Linked DNA regions of Homo sapiens: region 2 is linked to region 1. Evidence: fine-mapped expression QTL. A gene starts in region 1. The other region holds a variant in brackets. All regions are shown on one strand. Distances are between the middles of the regions. Region 1 holds the start of RAB8B (RAB8B, member RAS oncogene family). Region 2 overlaps RAB8B (RAB8B, member RAS oncogene family).

The links.
Region 2: its variant is fine-mapped to the expression of RAB8B in whole blood (INTERVAL, PIP above 0.99).

Annotation. Positions count from the first base shown.
Region 1 is chr15:63,182,500-63,194,899 of GRCh38, reverse strand. It overlaps RAB8B (RAB8B, member RAS oncogene family), which reads right to left and starts at 5,294. Exons shown (of 8, transcript NM_016530.3): 1 at 5,152-5,294. The coding sequence starts at 5,275. It overlaps LOC101928972 (a long non-coding RNA gene), which reads left to right and starts at 5,469. Exons shown (of 4, transcript XR_932355.4): 1 at 5,469-6,054; 2 at 7,865-7,910. RefSeq lists enhancers at 692-1,192, 2,474-2,633, 5,720-5,869 and a silencer at 5,210-5,539.
Region 2 is chr15:63,211,090-63,223,489 of GRCh38, reverse strand. The region is part of intron 1 of RAB8B (RAB8B, member RAS oncogene family); the gene reads right to left. Among named protein-coding and RNA genes, the nearest start is that of RAB8B, 28 kb to the right of the region's middle. RefSeq lists an enhancer at 12,298-12,400. The variant G/A (reference allele first, on the strand shown) is at 5,444.

The sequences.
Region 1 (12,400 bases):
GAACCAGTTAGTAAATATTTTTAAGCTTTGTGGGATACATATGGTCTCTTTTGCATATTGCTTTATTTTTTAATAACCTTTAAAATATAAAAACCATTCTTAGCCTGTGAGCTACACAAAAACAGGCTGCAGGTCACACTTGGCCCATAGGCTATAGTGTGCTAACCCCTGATTTTAAGGAAAGTGAACCCAAGAAAAATATCCAGTGTTACAGAATAAAATGTCTAAAAGTACTCTGATGAGACTAAGCTACAACAATTACTAACATACCCCCATTAATATGATTTCATTAGTTACTTTACGTATGGAAGAAATTTTAATGATAGGATACACTTTGATCTCCTAATGTGAAACTATAGACACAGAAAGGGCAAAGGACAGCTATGCGCTGAGTTATTCCAGTATAAACTCCAACAGAACTCAGAGTCATTGTAGTAACATTTGCTATTCACCTGAACAGACTCGGCTAATCAAAACAGAAATGTCTTAACTTTCCTCACATAAAGGCGTATGTGCAAACTCTAATTCTTCCCTGGAAAAGGTGATGACTTGAATTAATGGGGATAATCATACTGATTAGGAATAGTAGCAACTCAGTTGTGAAAAGTGACATAGACTTGGATCTGGGGTTTCACTACAGGATCTGCTATAATCAGCTGTGTAATTTTGAGGGTGTCAATTAAACCTTCATTTTTTTTTTATTTATAAAATTGGGACAGGAATAAAGTAGATAATATCTAAGACTCTTTCTGCTGTTAAACTATGACTATACTAAATAGTGAAACCACTCAGGAAATACCTAACAGGAAGAAGGGGGCAGGGCAGCAGAGAGACGGCAAAGGGAAGAAGCTCTGATTGTCCTGTCAAGAGGACAGGGCTGGGTTATCTCTTTTTGTTAAACCAGCACCTTTTTCTGTCCAGAGCCATTTCAAGACGTCGGTATGCCCTCATATCAATATTAAAATGCATCCATTTCCCAGAGGAAATATAATCTATAGCTAACTGTATCATCATTCCTAGTTGTCTTTATGTTACATTTTACAGGCACTTAATTAAATGTTTTTGATGTTGTTGTTGTTGTTGTTTTTTGAGATGGAGTCTTGCTCTGTCGCCCAGGCTGGAATGCAGTGGCGCGATCTCAGCTCACTGCAAGCTCGGCCTCCCAGGTTCACGCCATTCTCCTGCCTCAGCCTCCCAAGTAGCTGGGACTACAGGTGCCCGCTGCCACCCCCGGCTAATTTTTTGTATTTTTTAGTAGAGACGGGGTTCACCGTATTAGCCGGGATGGTCTCAATCTCCTGACCTTGTGATCCGCCTGCCTTGGCCTCCCAAAGTGCTGAGATTACAGGCATGAGCCACTGCGCTTGGCCAATTAAATGTTAATTATGATTACATAAGGGTTTTTAGAGCCAATAAAAAAAATTCAATTTTCAAACATTTGGAGTGAAAGGCGAGTTGGTCCTAGGCACTTGACCAATAATTTCAAATGGATAAAACATCCTTTCCTCACAGTTAACTAAACTATTGACAGATATACTAGAAGATCTTCAAAAAGTCAGATACAAGAAAATCTACCTTCCAACACCCCTCAAAGAGCAAAAAGGAAATGAAGGGACCTGAGATATCAGAGAAGATAGCAAAACCTTATTTATTTACTTATCTATTTTTTAGAGACAGAATCTTGCTCTGTCTCCCAGGCTGGAGAGCAGTGGTGCAATCATAGCTTACTGTAATAACCTTGAACTCCTGGGCTCACGTTATCCTCCTGCCTCAGCCTCCCAAGTAGCTAGTACTAAAGGTGTGCACCACTCCACCTGGCTAATTTTTTAATTTACTTTTTGTAGAGATGGGGTCTTGCTATGTTGCCCAGACTGGTGTCAAACTCCTGGCCTCAAGTGATCTTCCTGCCTCAGCCTCCCAAGTAGCTAGGAATACAGGCATACACCGTTTGGTGAATTTTTGTATTTTTGTAGAGACAGAGTCTCGCTATGTTTCCCAGGCTGGTCTTGAACTCCTGGCTTCAAGTGATCCTCCCACCTCAGTCTCCCAAAGTGCTGGGGTTACAAGCTTGAGCCACCACACCCAGCCAATAGCAAGACCTTAGAGAAGTGAGAAGAAGAAAGTATCTCTGAGACAACTGTATCTGGAATCAAAATGACTGTCTCCTTCCCTTCGTGATGACAGAACCCCTATCAAAACAGTGTCGAAAGATGGCAGATTACCATTTTTAAAACTACTAAAACTTTGACAAAGCAAAATTAAGACTTAAAATGTATCTTCATGGGAAGAAACAGACACCCATACATATCTACCAAAACACATACACACAAACCCCAGGCGTTGAGAAATACATCTTTTCCGTATGACACAGAGCTTATCAAGTGCTGTCAGCAATGCTATGGCAGACTTCATCAAAACCCAGTCAGAAAAGCACAGGAACTTACACACTTAGGTACTTCATGACTAGGGAGGAGATGGGCTGTCACCTCAGTAACTTCAGATCACCTGGGAATGAGGTGAGGGGCATGGAGGGAGTGGCTGCTAGAGATGTCAACACTCAAAATCTATACTTGTAATCAGTGAAGAGTCTGTGGAACCAGAATGGTGCTAACATTCACCTTATTTTCCCAGCTTAATTTTGACTGCAGAGCATTAGGTTTCTATATAATTCTGCAGTTTGAAGGCAGTGTGTATATAAATTCTGCAGTTTGAAGGCAGTGTGCTACCACTTCCTGTTGGAGCTCTGGGGCTAAATAAGAGGTATGGGATTTCCCCTCCTCCACGTCAACTGAAGACACAGCTCACACCTCTTTTTACCACATCCACCTCACAGAAAATATAAAGACCAAGATGTCACATGAGATTCACCTCCTTTTCATGTTCACTTCCTATTCTAATCTGTTTCAGGACACTGGTTTTCATGCCTTCATAGCTGTCACCCTCCAAAGAACCTCATTTCCATCATTTTTTGAAATCCACTGATAGACTTGAACCCTTCAAAATGAAAAGTAATTTTTAAAAGCTACTATTTTAAAAGGAACCAGATACCCTTACAGGAAACATGGGACAAAAATTAAGGGAAAAAGAGAAAACGAATAAAACTATTACAAACAAGCAAGTCGTCCAAGAAGCTTAACAAAAACAGCATCAGCGAGATTCACTTACTTTCAAGGCAGGAGATACTTCTGGGAGGCTCAAATACAGAATGGACAAAAGGACACCCACTCAACTTGTTAGAAATTATCCTTTACCATCTGTACTGCAGTATGCATTCAACAATGAAAAATTGTTATTTGAGGCTTTGAAATTAATACAAATGTCAAAAATTAACACCCTTTAGTTGCTGTACCAGCAGCTACCACCAAATCTTAGGAATATACTTGAGAGATGACATTTAAAATCTGCTTTTTCAGAAAAGAAAAAGTCCCACTCAAGACTGACTGCCAAGAACTTGCAATTCAAACTTCCCTAAGCCCAGACATCATAACACCCAGGAGATTTTAGACCATTCAATCTATATGAAAGAATCCAGAATGAGCAAACAAACCATAGCCTTTACTAATACTTAAAGAGTGTTCTATACCAAATACTCTTTTTTTAAAAAAAGATAAATTATCCTTAAAAATACACAAATATTTAAACACACGTATTACCAAAGCACTAGCTCTCTATTATTTCCCAACCCAGAAATTCATGGTGAAATATGCTGTAAGAACCATACGAAAGATGACTAAATAAGCCACTATTAGAGGCCAGAAACATCACCAACACAACCAAAAGCTGAGGTATTCTTAAGGTACTTAATTAACCTGCAACTATTTAACAGGAGAAATGATGTTAAGGTGGTCACTTCTAAAACAGCTTAAAACCAGCTTTGACTTGGTCTTCAGTTTATGATAAGTTAAGAGATCTTATTACCTGAACACAGTGTCTTCCAGTACAAAAGTAGAAAGGACAGCTCCCAGCCAGGATCAGAAAAACTCTTGATTCAATTGGAAGTAACTGAGAGGTATATCACATGTTGTGATTCACTTAACAATAATTAGAACCAAAGCAAAATATACAGGGAGGCAGGTAGAATGTAAGTTCATTTCCTTGGCTGAGAAGCTGTTAAACATTCAAACCGAAGGATTTAAAATACTGAGAAGTCTTGCTTCTCAGGAGATGGTAGTAAAGAGGTGAACCATATTTTCCTGACCACATCATTTCCAAAAGTCACCAATTCCCTTAACATCCATTAACACTCACAGAACAAATTAACGCTCTATAGACATTATTCCATCATTAGTCACATTTTGCTTTCTCCTGCACTTGATCCAAAGGAAGTGAAGAGAAAATGGTAATCAGTTACTATAGCAAGTCTTGCGCCCCACTACTTTCCATTTCCTCTCTTTTCCATCTCCTCTGTCTTCTCTGCTCAACCTCCCTTTACTATGATGTTGCTTCCTCTTTTCCTTTCTGTCTCACACCCAGATCCCTTTACTTTCTCCATCAAGTATCCTCATTCTGCCCTCTGATCCCTTGAACTCTTCTTCCACCTACAATTTTCTTCTGTCCCCTCCTACGACATCTCAGTCCAGACCTCCTGTGGCCAGCCGTCCCCTTCTTCCTCACCTCCTGACCGCTCATTCCCCTGAATTCCCTTCCAGTTGCCTGGTTCTCACCTCTCTGTCCCTTGTGTCCTCTGTCCCTTTACTTCACATCCCTCTCATTGCCCCCATCCCTCATTTCCCCCTTCACATTTCCTTCCTCTCCTGTCTTTTAATCATTGGCACGTCCACTATCCCCTTCTCTCTACATGAGATTTCCTGAGTCTTCCCCCCAACACATTTTGTCCCTCAAAGACCCCTCCCTGTCAGTCTCCGAACCCTCTCGTTCCCCCAATACCCCTAGTCCTTGTTCCTCTGTTCCCCTTCCCGTTCCTTTGCCCCCAAGTTCCCCCTTCGCCCTTAGCCTCACGTTCCCGCTCGCCTCTCTCCCTCACGCCCTCGCCCCTCTCCCTCACGCCCTCGCCCCTCTCAGTGCCCCCGCCACCTTGCAGTCCCCGGGGTCTCCTCTCCCGGGCTCCCAAGCGCCCCCCGCCCTTTCCCCGTCCCCTAGTACCCGCCCCCCAATTCTCTACCCGGTCCCGGGCCGCGGCCCCTCCCTCACCGATGGTGGAGATGAAGGTGGTGTTGAAGGCGTCCTCTGAGAAGCGGAACAGGAGGCAGGTCTTGCCTACCCCCGAGTCGCCGATCAGCAGGAGCTTGAAGAGATAATCGTACGTCTTCGCCATCTTCTCGCTCCGGCCCTCTGACCGGGGAGCCAGAGGAGGCGGTGGAGAGAGGCGGGGAGGGGGCCGCGGGCGAGGGGGCGTGCCCGCCAATCCGCCGCTGCTCGCCCCGCCCCACGCCCCGCCCCTCCTCTCGGAGAAGGCCTGCGCGCCCCGCCCCGTGCGGCCAATCGGCGAGGGCTTCGTCATCACCGCCCGCGCCCCGGGACTTCATGGGACTTGTAGTTCCTCCGGGGAGCCTCGGGCGTGCCCCGCGAGGACTGTCCAGGCGGCTCCAGCGGATAAAAGACCTGCTATGGGCGGGGTGACAGGGTGGAGGCGTTTCCACCCGAGCTGGGAAGGGAGGCCCCGTTTCGTACTCTGCTGGTCGAGCCGCGGGAACTTAACTTTGTTATTTCTTTGTGTGCAGACGCCTTCCAAATCCAGGACCTCAGAATCAGAGCCCCGTAGTTCCCGCATCTCTTCCGCCGAGACCTGGAGCAGAGATGCTTTCTTTCCTTGGCGCTGCTGTGGCGCAGCCTACGGGTTATCTGCAGAGGGCATTATCCAGCTTCTCCCCGAGGCCATGCCCAGCACCACTATAACCCCCTCCCGCAGCCCCTCAGTCACAGAGCTGAGAAAGAATGGTTACCATGCTAACTCGAACCTCACTCGTGCCCCCTTCTTCACGCCACACAGACCAGAGCCAAATACAATGAGTATTTAGAGAATCTGCTACGCTGATCGCTCCCCTCTCCTCGCAGGAGGATGGATTTTTAAATCTGGGAAGTCTTGTGCTACAGGTCTGTGCCCCATGAAACTGCAAGCATCCTGTGAGGCGGGCCACGGGAATTTAGAGAGTAAGATTTGAATTTAGTCTTGGCTCTGCTGCAAAACCGCTGTGACAAGTCACACAGGCACTGGACATTTCAGTTTTCTCATCTGTAAAATGGATATGAAACAAGATACTTCATAGGGTTCCAGTGAAACTTAAATACTAAATGTGAAAGTTCTTTGAAACCCATAAGGCACTGTTAGCAGTGATGGTAATATTCATTACTCTTCAGTAGGCTCTCACTTAATTGATGACGAATATAGGGAGGAAACAGCATTCTGTTATACTCAAGTTAATCCTTTATTATTTATTGTCTTAGGCTAATTCTCTGTTTTGTGGATGTATTGTTCAGTCCCCTTTCATTTGCTAGTGGCAGAAACCCAACCGGATTAGCTGTTGTGAAAGGGGTGTTGACTGGTTCAGGTAATGTGGAAGCAAAAGGCTAAGAAGGTGTGGGACTAGGAGTCCACCCTGCCAGGGCTCTGTGTCTCTCATCTGTTGTTCTCCCTTCGAAGTTTTAATTTCTAATATGTCAAATACCGACAGGTAAAACCCACATGAAAAAAAGCTTCTTGGAGTCTTCAATAAGTTTTAAGAGGATGAAGGGGTCTTGAAACCAAAGTATTTGAGAACCACTGGTCCAGACATTTACCTTAGCTATAAGGAAACACCTTCTGGAAGGCTAGAGGTTATTAAGGGAACCAGTGGACTCCACCATTAGTGGAATAAGAAAAGGGGGGGGGGGAAAAACCGTGGACAGTTAGTTGAACAAACCAGCAGGCTTTTCTAAGGACACATACTGTGTGCCTTGTGACTTTAGGAACAGTGCCACTGATAATCCATTCTCAGTTGCATTGTGGCAGAAGACTTAGTTGGCCCTAGAATTGGCCTTCATTTTCTATGCGGGTAAAAGATGAAATGTGTCATCATTAACTGATTGATCATACAGTAGCCAGAGGGCTGCTGCTGCTGCTGCTGCTGCTTACGGAATGTCTCATTCCTAGAGTCCACTAGATAGGAACAAAGCTCTAATGAGTTCAAAGTCACAGTGTCTGCCCCTAATGAAGAAGGATTCTGCCCTCTGGCACAGGCTGAGCCCTCTTGCCCAAGCCAGTCCTTGAGCAAGCCTCTGAACGTGGCTTCAGCCATGATCTGAACAGTGTGGATTGTTCTATATCTTCCTCCTCATTCCTGGAAAAGAAGGGGAAAAAATTCCGCAAAGACCAGTGGAATTTATTTCTTTTTAAAAATGTATATTTATGGCCAGGCGCGGTGGCTCACGCCTGTAATCCCAGCACTTTGGGAGGCCCAGGCGGGCAGATCACGAGGTCAGGAGATCGAGACCATCCTGGCTAACACGGTGAAACCCCGTCTCTACTAAAAGTACAAAAAATTAGCCGGGCATGGTGGCGGGCGCCTGTAGTCCCAGCTACTCGGGAGGCTGAGGCAGGAGAATGGCATGAACCCGGGAGGCGGAGCTTGCAGTGAGCCGAGATTGCACCACTGCACTCCAGCCAGGGTGACAGAGCAAGACTCTGTCTCAAAAGAAAAAAAAAAACCGCATATTTATTAAAATGATGTTTAGTCCCACTGTCTGTATGCAACTATTATCACTCTCTTTCTATATGAATAAAAATGTAGTGATACGGTAAAGAACTTAAGTTCAAAAGAGAAACTAGCATTAGGAATTTTAAAGTCCCTAAATTTTCTTAGGGGAATTTTGTTAATTGATGGGAATTTTAAAAAATAATAATGTTGTCTTATTTTCACTTCCCCAGTTTTTCTCTGCTACCAAGTATATATAATATTGGGACTTTCTAGCTGGTAAGTTTGTGCACCACTGTTGAACCATTCAAGCATTTTGACATATTGATACTACTTCAAAAAGAATCAGATTTTTTTCTCTTACACATTATTCATTTTCATATTTTGTGCAACAATGTTATTTAGATATCGGATTCTGGTGGTAGTAACTGAGTACTATTGAATCAAGGCATTTTGCTCAAAGGACTGGACATTAAGTATATTTGTAGCAGTACAGTTACTTCAGGTAGCAGGTTGCTGGTTGCCACTGTTCCTTCTTTCTCCGAGAGCTATCAGTGGACCCCGTTTTAAACTCCAAGTTACTATGCTCTGAGTGAACCACATCAATACTTTCTGTCAGTTTCCCAAGCCCACCCTGTAAATACTACATCACTGCAGAGCACCAGGCACATTCAATTTGATTTAGCAAATGTTTATTGAAGCCTTCTATAGGGTTAATATTGTACATGACAGCTTGACTACAGAAATCTAGATGTCCAAGGAGTCTACCTTCTGTGAATTTTGTCAGACCAGCACTCTTTCTGTTTTTGGAAAGCCACTCCTCTTTCTAATGATGGCTGTGAATCATGTCACTTCACTCCACATGCCACAGAGGTGGGCATATGACCCAGGCTGCGTCAATCCGAGTTCTTCCCTGTGAACTTTCTAAGGAAATGGGTTTTGATGCTGAAAGTAGGTCTGTCTGGTATGAGGTCTATGTGAGCTTTTGGCTGGTTTTGATCAAAGCTTTAGTTCATTTTCCTGTATGCTCTTGTTCCTGCTCTTCTCTGTGTTTACTTTGTCCTCAGGCTAGCTTTCCTCATGGTAGCAAGCAAGACTGCCATGTTGCACAATTCCAAAGGCATTATTCACTCTCCACAGTAATGTATTCATCTTGGAGGTCCACTCCCAAGATTCTACAAACATAGTCTTGAGGGTCTGTGTGTTCTCTAAGCAAATTTTCAAAATAGTTTAAGAATTTTTAAACTGGTTTAAGTTGCTCCATGACACTTGAGAGCAAGAAATCACCTTTCTTAATGGCTTTAACGAAATTAAATTTGGCTGAGACCCCTACTTATCAAAGGCTGGCAAAACCAATATCAGGTTTTTTTTGTTTGTTTTTGAGACGGAGTTTCACTCTTGTTGCCCAGGCTGGAGTGCAATGGCACAGTCTCAACTCACTGCAACCTCTGCCTCCTGGATTCAAGCATTTCCCCTGCCTCAGCCTCCCGAGTAGCTGGGATTACAGGTTCCCATCACAATGCCCAGCTAATTTTTATATTTTTAATAGAGACGGGATTTCACCATGTTGGCCAGGCTGATCTCCAACTCCTGACCTCAGGTGATCCGCCCACCTTGGCCTCCCAAAGTGCTGGGATTACAGGCATGAGCCACCGCGCCCGGCCCAAAATCAGTTATTATTGGGACTTTTCCTCTCCTTAATTGTATCTTACAAGAATCCAGGAGCTCACATGGTCCTGAAAAATTAAAGGCAAAGCAGCCTCTGGGAATCAGTGTGTACCCATCTCGGTTGACACTTCTGCCCAACTACTCTTAGGTTCTGGCCCTCTGCCATCTGTTGAGCACAGCTGTCCCGGTGGGCTACAAAGATGTCCTTTATGGTGATTATCTTCACTGACTGATGACTCAGCTGTTGAATAAGTTCTCTCTCTGTTATTGAATGGTTTGTGTGCTTCTTTGTCTGCTCCCTTAAAAGTTGAGCTCTTTGAGGAAAGAGACTGCTAATGTATTGCTGCATCCCCAGCATGCTTAGCATGATGTTTTATACATAGCAGGCACTCAAGGTGTTGAATGAACCAATGAATGAAGATCTGACTAGCATCTTAGCAGTCTAGCTAATTTTAAAACATCTGGACACCTTTAGTTTATTATTTGCTATATTAGGTGTTTGGGACCTCGCTAATATCTTTCTGTTTGTACTCTACCTTGTATTTAGATGTTATTCATTCAGTAAGTACACTATTCATTGTTGTGTTTAAGAAATCAGCATAATTATGTATTATTTTTCTGGTTTGTCAAGATCACATTGAATGATAAGCCCTTAAAAATACCAATTTTTCATGTCACCTGTGTGTCATTAAAAAATGCTATTTAGTGATACTCCAGTGTATAATTCTACAATTATCCTAATCAGAGGGACAAACTGTACCCTTTCCACTGACTGATATTTCCTGAGCAATCACTAGGTGAAAAATGTCCACTCAAACATTCATTAAGTTCACACTTTGAAACCAGCTAAGCAAGGCCACCTGGAGGATACAAAAAGATGTCTCATGTGGTCCTTGCCCTCAGTTTGCTCCCAGCTAATTGAGGGGAGAGCCCACAAATGAAAAATTCAATGGTAAATGTGAGGCTCGTACACATTGCATTTATCTTGATAGGTGAAGATAAGTTGTCCATTCTGATTGGTTGGCTTTTCATTCGGATTAGTGGGGCATCCATTCTCATTCTCATTGGTTGGGTGTTGATTTTGATGATTTGGGCATCCATTCTGATTGGCCAGGCTTCCAATCTGATTGGTCAAGTGTTCCTGCCAAACTGATTGTTACATATTATGCATATCACCACTGGATGCAAAAGTTAAATAAAAATGAGAGATGATAAGACCCCTACATTATGTACATTCTACAATAATGTAGAATCAGTGGGAGCCCCGAGCTTGTTTTCCTGCAACTAGATGGTCCCATCTAGGGGTGATGCGAGACAATGACAGAACATCAAGCATTAGATTCTTTTTTTTTTTTCTTTTTGGGACAGAGTCTCACTCTGTCACCCAGGCTGGAGTGCAGTGGCACGATCTAGGCTCCCTGGAACCTCCCCTCCCCAGGTTCAAGCGATTTTCCTGCCTCAGCCTCCTGAGTAGCTGGGATTACAGGCACACACCACCACACCCGGCTAGTTTTTGTTTTTAGTAGAGATGGGGTTTCACCGTGTTGGCCAAGCTGGTCTCAAACTCCTGACCTCAGGTGATCCTCCTGTCTTGGGCTCCCAAAGAGCTGGGATTACAGGTGTGAGCCACCGCACCAGGCCTAGGCATTAGATTCTCATAAGGAGTGGGCAACCTAGATCCCTCACACACGCAGTTCACAATGGGGTTCGTGCTCCTCTGAGAATCTAGTGCCACCTCAGTTCTGACAGGAGGTGGAGCACAGGTGGTAATGCTTGCTCACCTGCTGCTCACCTCCTGGTGTGTAGCCCAGTTCCTAACAGGCCACTGACCACAACTGGCCCACTGCCTCGGGGGTTGAGGACTCCTGCACCAAAGGGTGGTTTGGAAGGAATTCATTCTAATACCTCTTATATTATTTCTTTCTCTGGTAATAAAGTTGCTGACAATAAAATATTAGCAAAATTCATTCATTTCATTAAGCTAGGCATTGCTATTTTGTGGGATTTTGTGTAAAGTAAGACGTGCAATAAGGACTATGCATTTTGGGTAGAGCTTTTTGGGTAGAGCTTCTTGTAAACTTGAGGTTTTTTGTTTGTTTTTTTTGGTTTTTTTTTTAAGTCTTTTGGGGCCAACTTTAAAATGGACTCTTATCCAATAGCAAAGTCAAGATGTGCTGAAACTCACAATCAGCATCAGAACAGGTATTGGGATTCTTATGGTAGTAAATAACAGAATACTAAATGACCTAAATAAAAATACTGATTTAAACCATAAATATATTTAACCCTAAACTAGAATTATCAGATATAAGCCTAGTGACAGGTGAGACTTAATCTAGTAGCTCAAATTACATGCCCAGTTCTTGGCTTCTCTTTGTCAGCATCTTAGCAACACGTCTTCAAGATAGCACTTATTTCAATAGGCTAGCCCCATGTGGTTGCAAAATGTCTTCCTGAAACTCCTAGGGCTCCTTGCTTCCAGATTCAAACAGAGCAGAATGTAGAGAATCCTTTTCCCCAAAAGTTCAAATAAATACCCAGGAATTGAGTTCCATGGGCCTTGACTGCCCTTCCCTGAACCTATGCAGGGCCCAAGAGAGTGGCCTCTGTCAACTGATGTAAGCCACTGGGACTGGGTGTAGAGTCAGCCTCACCCTAAACACAGGGTTCTATTAGTGAAGACTGGAGAAGATAAGGCTGGGAAACAAATGAGCACCATCTGTGTTTACGTGTCAAATGCACATGGATATTTGTTTGCTTGTTTTTGAGACTGAGTCTCATTGTATTGTCCAGGCTGGAGTGTAATGGCACGATCTCGGCTCACTGCAACCTCTGCCTCCCGGGTTCAAGCAATTCTCATGCCTCAGCCTCCTGAGTAGCTAGGATTTCAGGCACATGCCACCACACCTGGCTAATTTTTGTGTGTTTAGTAGAGACAGAGTTTCACCGTATTCATCAGGCTGGTCTCGAACTCCTGACCTCTGGTGATCCGCCCACCTCGGCCACCCAAAGTGCTGGGATTACAGGTGTGAGCCACGATGCTTGGCCATCACATGGATATTTGTGTCAAGTACTACCAAGTGATTGATTACATTGGAGAA
Region 2 (12,400 bases), 29 kb before region 1:
TGGTAAGTATTTGTGTGTTTAAACATATCTAAACATAGAAAAAGTACAGTAAAAACATGGTATAAAAGATAAAAAATGGTGGCTGGGCCCAGTGGCTCATGCCTGTAATCCCAGCACTTTGGGGCCGAGGCAAGTGGATCACCTGAGGTCAGGAGTTCGAGACCAGCCTGGCCAATACAGTGAAACCCCGTCTCTACTAAAAATACAAAAATTAGCCGGGCATGGTGGCAGGTGCCTGTAGTACCAGCTACTTGGGAGGCTGAGGCAGGAGAATCGCTTGAACCCGGGAGGTGGAGGTTGCAGTGAGCCAAAATCATGCCACTGCATACCAGCCTGGGTGACAGAGCAAGATTCCGTCTCAAAAAATAACAAAAAATAAGTAAAATAAAAATGGTATACCTATATAGGGTACTTACCATGAAAGGCGCTTACAGGACTGGAAGTTGCTCTGAAGGAATCAATGAGAGAGTGATGAGTGAATGTGAAGGCCTAGGACATTACTGTACACTACTGTAGACTCTATAAACACTATACACCTAAGCTACACCAAAATTATATTTAAAAAATAAGGTAACTGTAGTACAACATTACAATAGTTATGATGTCACTAGGCAACAGAAATGTTTTAGCTCCATTATAATCTTATGTGGGCCGGGCATGGTGGCTCACACCTGTAATCCCAGCACTTTGGGAGGCCAAAGCGGGAGGATCACTTGAGGTCAGGAGTTCGAGACCAGCCTGACCAACATGGTGAAACCCCATCTCTACTAAAAATACAAAAAAAATTAGTCGGGTGTCGTGGCATATGCCTGTAGTCCCAGTTACTCGGGAGGCTGAGGCAGGAGAATTGCTTGCGCCCAGGAAGCGGAGGTTGCAGTGAGCCAAGATTGTGCCACTGCACTCCAGCCTGAGCAACAGAGTGAGACTCCGTCTCAAATAATAATAAAAATCATCATTATCATCATCATCATCAACTTATGGGACAACCATCCTATATATGATCCATCATTCACTATAATGTTGTTATGTGGTGCATGACTGTATTTACAACAGAAGGAATTTAATAGAGGGAACTGGCTATATAAGGCATTAAATTGCTGCAAACCATATTGGGGATGGTAAAAGGTTTAACAACAGCAGGGAGCCACTACCACCCCTAAGCCGGAGAGACAAAAGGAAGAGATGACAACAGCAGGGAGCCACTACCACCCCTTAGCTGGACAGACAAAAGGAGGAGATGGTGTTATAGGAACTGAAGACATAGAGTCACTGGACAAGAACCATGGTGGTCCTGTCCAGTGAGAACTAAAGCCAGAGAGAAACAGTCTCTGCTAGAGAAGCCACCCAAGGCAAGAAGGGAAAAAGAGAAATATCTTGGTTTCTCCCTTTCTCCTCTTGCATTATTTCCTGCCAGTTTCTCTAATCAGCTGAACCCAGTCTGAAGCTAGCTGACCCAGAAGCCTGGGTGGAGAAACAGGGAAGAATGAATATTAGAGAAAACTGACCAAGGGCTACAGTTAATCCTCAGCTGCAATAATCAAATATGTGACTGTTACAAGCAACTGAGATTTTGGGGTTGTATAACTGCAAAAGCTGACTGATACATGCCTCCACAAACATCAAGTAGGTAAATAAATAAGCAGACAGAAGTGAAATAAATGGAGAATCAAAAGTGAAATCATAGCAATAATTACTTTTAATAATTGCTTTGAAGACATTTCCACTATTAATTCGTGAGCCCAGGGTGGAAGGCAAGCACATGTACAGACCCCCAACCATGCTCTGGTCCTGAAGGAGAAGTCCATTCAGGAACCTGTCTAGCTATGTGGTGGGATCCCCAGCTAGCGGTGGAGATGAGCCCTGGCCAGGACTGTCTTATAGCTTCACAATTAACTGGGCAGTTCGGGACAGGATGACCTGGTGAACTGGGAGTGTCATATGCTGGCAAGTGAGGAGCCAGGACTTCCAAAAAGGAAGTTTGTCACTGAGTCAGCGATGTTGCCAAGCCCTAAGCCAGAGCAGTACTAATATAGCTCAAAGGTAACCACTGACATGGCCATTCAAGCTTTTTGCTTATAATACTTCTAGCACAGTACTAGCTTCCATCATAATACATACAGTATAGCTTCATTAGTTATTTATAATCCCTCCCTTCTCCCAAAGTAGACTGTATGCACCACAGGATACTGGATACCTTTTTAGTTTATGTAACTCTACAATTACCCATCTTAAAATATATGGCCCCATCCAACATATCCAACATTATTTTTCACAATTCCTCAGCATAAAACCTCAGAAATGCCTCTTTCATGCTCTGTGGTATTCCCTGCCTCTAAGCATTTTTCAAGATCTCCCCATTGTCTGGAACATTCTCCATCCTTTCCATCTGAATCCTGAAAGTGCCTCAAGATTCAGAAACTCTACCTCCTCTGTCCTCCAGTTATTCCAGCCAACTCTGCTCACTCTCTACCCTAAACTCCTACAGAATTTAGAATGCATATCATTATGCATGTGGCAATTAATTATTTTTGTTGTTTCATTTAAGTTTTACCTTCCCAATTACACTTGAGCAGAGGATCTAGCACTGTATACGGCTGATTAAATAAGTGCCTGATAAATGTTTAAAGGAATAAATGAAAGATAAACCCTTTTTAAAAAAAAGCAGGAGCCTCATCTTTTACTTACAGTACTTCATTTGGAACCTCCCTCCTGTTTGCCAAGCAAGTAACAGGCACTCAATAAACATTTCTTGACACTGATCAATTACTTTGGAATACAATCAGGTTTACATATGTCTAGATTGATCCTACTGGAATGAATCTTAATGGCTGGCAAATTAAGTTACATATTTGGGTAACTTTAAGTGATAAAACAAAAAAGTGAAACACAAAAAACACTAAAATATGAAACCACTGAAAGTTTCAAAAAATACCACTTGACTCTTACTCCTCCTTACTCTTATATGTGCAGTGAACACTGTACTCTCTTCTATTCTCATGTTCTTGTCCTACTGTCTTTCCCTCCATTTAAAAAAAAAAAGTTGGTCTGTACACAGTAAATTGACTTCATGACCCAATAAAGGGTTGCAATCCATATTAAAAACACCGGCCTAAAGAACATTCTAGAATAATTTTCTTAAATTATTAAGTACAAATGACAAAACAGTACTAAGCATACATAAAGTAGATGTCTTCATTTTAGAATGAAGAAAAGGCAACAATGCAGTCTCTTCTAGAGAAATGAAATAGAACGAAAGGTTCTGCTACCATTGTCTCAATTCTAACCACGTTAACTTAGACAGGTTTAGGGGTTCGGGTGATTTTTAAAAATTCAACACACTGAAATAAATAGCAATTTTGTAATTATATTAAAAGGCCTGATATAAGGGCTAACACTGAAGTGGGGGGAAATAATTGGATATTTCATATTGGTTAGAAAGTCTTACTTTCTTCAGAAACCATAGTTTTCTTAACACTTGGACAACAATCACAAAACCAAATGTTGTGGATGTCTCTACGTTGTGTGGGAACTTCTACCATTGTTCCAACAACTAGAATGGCTTCCAGAGTCCATGTAGAAAGAGTAGAAAGCAGAAAACCAAAAAAGAAGAGAGATAATAGACTCATTACCCAAGAGACCCTCTCAAAAACACAGCCAGTTAAGCCAGCAGTGGAAGCCTTCCATCAATATAGGCTCAATAGTAAAAGACCCAGTTTTCTTTCATGGAAAAAAAGGGATCTGTCTGATCAAATACAGCCTCCATAGAATTGGTTTTTCTAAAAAATGAGACAAGTCTTCAGTGGCAAACTGCCCCACAGCAGTGGCTTTCTGCCTTTTTTAACCCACTGGTAAGAAATAATTTTTATATAACAACACATTCCACATATATACATACTTACATAACTGAAACAAAAGTTTTATGAAATAGCACTTGACCCTTACTCCTTGTTACTCTTACATGTGCAGTGGACTCTGTGTTCTCTTATCTGTTGTCATGTTCTTGTCTGTTCTCTTTCCCTCCATTTAAAAAAAAAAAAAAAAGTTGGTCTGGACACAGTAAATTGACTTCATGACCCAGTAATGGGTTGCAACCCATATTGAAAACATTGGCTTAAAGAACATCCTGGAAGTCAAGTAAAGGTCACATTCTCTCTCTCGATCTCTTTCTCTCTTTCTTTCTTTTTTTTTTTTTTTGATGGGAGTCTCGCTCCTTTGCCAGGCTGGAGTGCAGTGGCGTGATCTCAGCTCACTACAATCTCTGCCTCCCAAGTTCAAGCAATTCCCCTGCCTCAGCCTCCTGAGTAACTGGGACTACAGGCGCGTGCCACCACCCCGGCTAAATTTTTGTATTTTAGTGGAGACGGGGTTTCACCGTGTTGGCCAGGATGGCCTCGACCTTCTGACCTCGTGATCTACCCACCTCAGTCTCCCGGCACCTGGTGATCTCTTTCCTTCTAAAAAAAAAAAAAAAAAAAAAAAAAAAAATCCACTGCTGGAAGAAAAGATCATTTTAGCTTCACTTTTTAGTGAGAGAGAGAAAAATGACAACTTCAGGGTCTTGTATATAGCTGCCCCTAAAATATTTGTTAAACTTAAGAGGCTAAAGTGTTTTTTTTTCTTCCTATTTTGTGAGTAAAGTAACATATTAACAAGCAGGGAGGCTAAGATTTAAAGGAAAAAAGGAGAATTCCAATAATGGAAATACTGCTTGAGCAACATGCCCAATATTTTGAATATGACATTGCCGGGAATTCCTGTATCACCTGAGATACTTTGATTTATCAGCCTAAGGCCAAGAAACAAAAGAGAGAAACGCCCATCACAAAAGGCCAGAAGAGTTCAGTAGTGTGGTAACTGACATCATTTCAAATGAATGAAGTGGGACTATGCCCTTTAAATGAGGAAATAATTGCCTGCAAAATAAATGACTCCAGCTTAAAACAATCCAGAATGTCTAAAGCACAAACTCTTAGAACAAAATGCAGCCAAACAAAATGAGCTTCAGATTAGATAACCCCGTATAGTGGAGTCCAACGATATTCTTCAAGATACTCTCCTGAGATCCCTGCTCAGCAGATAATGATGCTGACAGCTATAATGGGATAGGCTATCATTAATAAAAATAGCTAGCACTTCTTAAGGACCCACTTAAGGCCAGGCACTGTGATAGGTACTGAATATTCCTTATCACTATTCTCATAACAAGTCTGCAAGGGGGCTTTAATCCCCATTTAACGTAAGAGGAAACAGAGGTCCAGATAAGTAACTTGCTTATACTTGTAGAAAGTGATAAAACTGGGATAATGAACTCAACTGTTATATTTTAAACCTTCACCTCCCATTGGTGCATTTCTTTTGCCAACATAAGGGTAGAAGCATAAAAAAAAAAGAACAGATAACCACATGTACAACATACATGGAGCAATAGGAAGGAAGTGAGGAA[G/A]GGGAAAAAAGGCAAAAAGGAACTGGTCCTTTTAAATAAGAAAGACATTATTTCAGAAAATGGCAGCTTCGCTTAGTTTGGAACCTAAGCTTTAGCTCTATAGTTCTAAGTGTCTATTTTAACAGCAGTTATTACTATGTGAGCTCTGTACTCTCAATCTAGGGAAAAGAATCTTGCCACTAGAAGAATAATTTTAAAGTGAGAGTCTGCTTTTGATACAAATATTTGATATAGATACTAAGTGGAATAAACATAGCGATCTACCCTTCTCTCTCCCGAAAAACTGTCTTTATCACGTTTTACTTTAAATTGTTTAGATTTTCCTCAAATTAAAAAGACAAGCTAAAGGTAATAAAATATTATTAAAGGCAATGCTTTAATTATACAGCATGGAAACCACTCATTTGCACAATGAGCATTTTATAGCTGAATGAAACTCTTCTCAAGCTTGGGGAAAACACTCAGAGGTATTCAAAATAATTAGTCCTTTGATCCTTCATTTGGTTTCAAATGGCCATAAGTGACTCTCCAAACTTGGTCAAGGATCTGGAGTTATTATACACAGTACCACCCAACAATCGTCTTGGTTAAGGCTTTCTCACTGACCCAAAAACATGGCACATGGTGAAAAACATTTTCCTTAAATGTCTAAATTGCTGCTGGAATAAATACTAGAAATGATTAGAAAGTTCCAATGGAAAAACCCCATATTCCATTCAATATTTTTAAATGTAAAGGACGTTTATTTTTGCATCTTTTACACAAAAAGAAAGTAATTATATAGAACAATCCTAACTCCATTACGCTTATTCCTCAAACCATTAGGCCCTCGTATGTACCATCTTTTCATTAGTCTCTTCGAAGTACATTTGAATTCCTTTTATCTGACTAATCATACATTAATCATATATGATTTATCTAATGAGATATCTGATTATTCTTTCTAAAGATGAAGGAAACTACCATGAGCTCAGAGGATATAAGGAAATGAAATGAAAGAAAATTAGATTCAGTGGAACTAAGAGAAACATAGATGTAATCAACCCATGTGCATCTAGTCAGAGGCCAACTTCTCTCTAGCAAAAGTCCCCCAGTGTGTTAGCAACAGAGACTACTGCACTGATACCACTTTATGACTAAAAAAGGAGGAATACTTTACAAGTCAAAACTTTTTTTTTTTTTTTTTTGAGACAGAGTCTCACTCTGTCACCCAGGCTGGAGTGCAGCGGCATGATCTCAGCTCACTGCAACCTCTGCCTCCCAGGTTCAAGCGATTCTCCTGTCTCAGCCTCCCAAAGAGCTGGGACTACAGGTGCACACCACCATGCCCGACTAATTTTTGTATTTTTAGTAGAGACAGGGTTTCATCATATTGGCCAGGCTGGTCTCGAACTCCTGCCTTGTGATCTGCCCGCCTTGGCCTCCCAAAGTGCTGGGATTACAGGCGTGAGCCACCGAGACAAGCCACAAGTCAGAACTTTTAAATCAGTGGTACTGAACATTTAAAAGTTGGATTGAGGCCAGGCACAGTGGCTCACGCCTGTAATCCCAGCACTTTGGCAGGCCAAGGCAGGTGGACTGCTCGAGCTCACGAGTTCAAGACCAACCTGGACAACATGGTGAAACCCCAGTTCTACTAAAATACAAAAAATTAGCCGGGTGTTATGGTGTGCGCCTGTAGTCCCAGATACTTGGGAGGTTGAGGCAGGAGAATTGCATGAAACCAGGAGGCGGAGGTTGCAGTGAGCCAAGATTGTGCCGCTGCACTCCAGTGGGGGAGACAGAGCAAGACTCTGTCTCCAAAAAAAAAAATAATAATTAATTAATTAATTAATTAATTAATTAAAGTAAAAGTTGGATTGAAACATTTATATGGATGTTAAAAGAGAGGAGAAATCACAGTAGATAATATATATGAAAAATTATAGAGAAGAAAAACACATCATATGGTGCTAAGATGCTAATTATGGACTCTTGAATAGGGTAATTTTCTTTAATTTTTCTTTTTTTTGAGACGGTCTCATTCTGCTGCCCAGACTGGAGTGCAGTGACACAAACAAGGCTCACTGCAGCCTCAACCTCCTGGGTTCAAGTGATCCTCCCACCTCAGCCGCCAGAGTAGCTGGGACCACAGGTGCATGTCACCACACCTGGCTAATTTTTAAAATTTTTTATGGAGATGGGGTCTCGCCATGTTGCCCAGGCTGGTCTCAAACACCTGGGGTCAAACAATCATCCTGCCTCAGCCTCCCAAAGTGCTGGAATTATAGGCATGAGCAGCTATGCCTGGTCTATAGGGTAAAATTTTAAGGGCAAATATAATATAGTTGCTCTTTCTTCTGAATCTTCTGCCAATTCCCACTTCAACTTTCAGTAAAAAGTAAAGGGTTGTGAAAATAAGACTGAGTTGACAATTCTAAAACTGACTAAAATAAAAATGAAAATTATGAGGACCTCAGGCATTTTTCAAAGTAAACTAGAAAGAACTTTCCTTTTGATAGTCCATTTACAAGTAGCGAAGTCTATCATAGGGATTCTCAGTTCCTTCGAAGACTAAAAAGAAATACAGTATGACAAAGATACAGCGTTAACTGGTTAAATTTTTATATAAGTATAAAAATTACTTCCTACTCTTTACAAACTTGTTATTGACCAGAAGGCAGTTTTTCATTTAATATCTTTGAAAAATCAGCAGTTAAGTAAAAAATATCAAGACAATTTTTGGAACACTTTAATCAGAAGTATGGAAGTATACAAATGAATTTTAAAATAAAATCAATGCATCAATGAATAAGATCTAATATGAAAGTACTCACATTTCACGATGAGACTATGATCAGATGCAGGAAAGGCAAAAGTCTAAATCCCAGTAGAGAAAGGATGGGTATGAGGGACAAAGGGCCCTTGGACTGAATTATCAAGAGTGATGTCTTCAGCTTCCAGATTCCCAGAGCCCCTGTTGGTAGTTATTGACAAATATGGTATTTGGTCACAAATAGCAACAGCAGGTATCTCTTGTGTCTGGGATAGGAAAGGAGATCAGAAACCTGTGAAGATTGCAAACTCCTGACTCCATAAGAATGAGGTGGAAGGTCTGAGGACAGAGAGCTGTAGATGCCCTACTCAATTTTAAAGACCTTAGTAAACAAGAAAAAATAAAATTAAATACTATATGTGTATTCCATGGGAAATTATTTTTATTGTTTCTTTTGGTGGGGAGAACACCACTATATGCAGTTTTAGGAGGAAAAGATAAGAAACATGAATTCTCAGAAGCAGGTTTCAACCCCCACAGCTCAAGGGTTACATTAAAAAAGAGAAATGAACTGCTGCTGAAATTAGAAGCAAGAGAACCCACTCTGGTCAAATCCACTGTCAGATGGAAAAGCTTTGTGAAGTGTTAGAAACGGTTGGGCATGGTGGCTCACGCCTGTAATCCTAGCACTTTGAGAAGCCGTGGTGGATGGCTTCTCGGCCTTTTGGCTAAGATCAAGTGAGAAGCCGTGGTGGGCAGATCACCTGAGGACAAGAGTTCAAGACCAGCCTGGCCAACATGGTGAAACCCCGTCTCTACTGAAAATACAAAAATTAGCCAGGCACGGTGGCACCTGCCTGTAATCCCAGCTACCCGGGAGGCTGAGGCAGGAGAATCGCTGCAACCTGGGAGGCGGAGGCTACAGTGAGCCGAGATCATGGCCCTGCACTCCAGCATGGGTAGCAGAGTGAGACTCCGTCTCAAAAAAAAAAAAAAAAAAAAAAAGAAAGAAACTGAGCGTACCCATTTCCAAGGAATTCAACACTGTTGAATTCTTTTTCAAACTTAAACTCCTAGATAACTACATTAGATCCTTTACCTCCCACACTGTAATACCTTGAAAGGAATAGCCAATCAGAATTTTTAAACACTGGAAATTTCTACATTTTACACGTTGGTATAGCAAACGAAACCACTTTTTTTTTTCCCCTGAGACAGAGTCTCGCTCTGTCACCCAGGCTGGAGTGCAGTGGCACAATCTTGGCTCACCACAACCTCCACCTCCCAGGTTCAAGCAATTCTCCTGCCTCAGCCTCCCGAGTAGCTGGGATTACAGACACATGCCACAACGCCCAGCTAATTTTTGTATTTTTATTAGAGTAGGGGTTTCACCATGTTGCCCAGGCTGGTCTCGAACTCCTGACCTCGTGATCTGCCCGCCTCTGCCTCCCAAAGTGCTGGGATTACAGGCGTGAGCCACCGCGCCTGGCCTGGAAACCACTTTTGTTTTGTTCTTGAGAGCAGATATAAGCGATGGAAATAAATGGAAAATGTAGAAAATTATTTGGAAGACAGAATTTACTCATTTTAAGTTTCAACACTCATATAAACAAAAGCAGTTGGAAAGAACTCATGTAGGAATTCCCCATAACCAGAAGGAAGATTGTTTTGTTTTGGGTTTTTTTTTAAGTGTCCATATTACAACTTAAATTTACAACTTAAGCTTTTATCATTATTTTAAAAATGAAAGTGGTATCATCTATAGTCATAAATGCACAGCCTACTGAATTTAAAAGAGGAGCACATTCCAGTTTTAGGCATAAGTACAGTAACTAAATAGACTTGAACAAGAAATTCTTTATCCAGTACAGATTTTCTGAGCATTTGGCACTATACAGAAAACCATGATTTACTAAGCACCAATCAACTGACCTAAGTTACATTATAACAGCACCCCTAGCCTATCCTCTGCTTTGCCCCACGTCCCCCTCCAAACATATCCACCTGAAATAGTACCTAGAAGACATTTGTCCTTATCAGATTTTATTTGAAGGAAGAAGTCAGAAAGGAATTATCTAGTAATAACTTAGTTACAATTTCAGGTACCAGCAGAGAAGCCAAAAAATGAAAATTAATCTGTGTACAAGCTGAAATTGTCCCTAGTTCTGAAAAGAGAATAGTCAGAACCTAGAGAGTTCCTTTTTGATTCCAAAGAGGGAAGGAAGGGAGGAAAGAAGGGAGGAAGAGAGGGAGGGAGGGAAGACTTAGACACTAAAACATGCTTTAGGCCTCTGCCAAAGCCTTATAAAAAACTAAGACAAACCTCATAGTTAACTACTGACAGTGGCATGTGCTTTTAATTCTATTCTGAAAATGTGCATGCAAGCAAGGCAAAATTATATCATGGTTCTCATTTACATTTATCATTGCCTCACTATGGGAATATATAATCACATACGGACATCTGTGGATGATTATATACAAAGACGGGCCTTTCAAGATCAAGTTTAAGAGTTCTAGTGTCTTTCTATTCATACACCAATCATGAAGCAATTCACTAGAGCTGTTTTAGGGAATACGGAAATATTTGGGGAAGTCCAGAGGCTGTCTCCTCATCACGTACAAAAATTTTGTAATAATTTCCTTCACCTCCCCCTCTTCCCACAGTAAAGCTCAGCAGTGACATTTCCTTTCCCCTATCTAGTTATATGAATCACTTTTTACTTTACTACATTTTTAGGGATTCTGTGTTTTTACCTTGAATCAAAAGTGATGCCAAATTATCACTAATACATCTTGACTCTTCTGATCCCCAATCAGAATTTCCCCTCCCCTAATTGAAAGTGACATTTTCTAGTACAAAAATTTTCACGCAAAATGAGGTTAGACTAGAATAAATATGAGTCAGATGAACATGAACTGAAACAGAAAAATGTGCTGGTGCAATCCCTCCCTTAACAACTTTATCTCACAACCCCGGATGTTTAAAAATGATAAACATGGTGACCTATCCAAGAACAACCTGGATATCAAGTTTTCGTTGTTTGTTTTTTGCTGCGAACTAGTTCAGCATGCTCTGCTTGTTATACATCAAGGATGCCTCTACATCAATTCAGGAGGAAAGACTACAACGCACTGTGTAGGAAGATGGGGCTTTTAGGCCAGGCACTGTGGCTCATGACTGTAATCCCAGCGCTTTGGGATGCTGAGGCAGGAGGACTGCTTGAGCCCAGGAGTTCAAGACCAGCCCAGGCAACATAGAGAGACTCCCTCTCTTAAAAAATTAAATAAAATGAGCTGGGCATGGTGGGACACACCTGTAGTCCCAGCTACTTGGGAAGCTGAGGTGGGAGAATCACCTGAGCCTGGGAAGTTGAGGCTGCAGTGAGCCATGATTGCGCCACTGCACTCCAGCCTAAATGACAGAGTGAAATCCTGTCTCTAAAAAAAAGAAAAAAACACAGGGCTCTTCATGTTGTTGAATGATCAACTAGGGGCAACTCCCCTTCAGCCATGACAGTTATGAGATGTCTATCAATATCTATCATGACCAGTCACTAGTTGCAATTGACTAGTGTCAGTCAATATATGACAATACTAAGAAAAATGCGGTGCTTGGCAAAAAAAATCCACCAAAACTATGACTGGATTTAACTGGAAGTTAATTTTGAACTCTACCACACTACCTGTACTTTTAAGAAGATACATTTAAAGAAAGTAAATACTAAACACAGTATCAGGAAGCTTTATAAAGGAAATATCAAACTATGGCTCTCTCTAAAGTCTTGCGTAAACATTCTTTCCTATTCTAATGGCCATCAAAGTTAAGGATATAATAGGGTTAAACCAGAATCTCAATGAGAGAGATGGTGAACACATATAGTCTGGGGTAGAACACAGTTATAATATCACAGTACGTGAGACAATAATCTCCCAACCTCCCAACTCAGAAAGGGACAAGAATTCACTCAATCTGGCTGTAGTTTCAGGAACATCTGTGAAGCATTTCCCAGTATTCTCAGTAATTTCTATACTTCCGATCTACAAAGGATATTCTACTATTTGTTCTCTTGTCAATAAAGAAAAGTTAGGCCAAAAGAGATTTTAACACAAAACACTTAAGCTAATAAAAGCAGAGCTGGTCTTTCACTTTTATTTGGGTTTTTGCAGATAAGACGCACATCTCAAACCAACCATAGGAT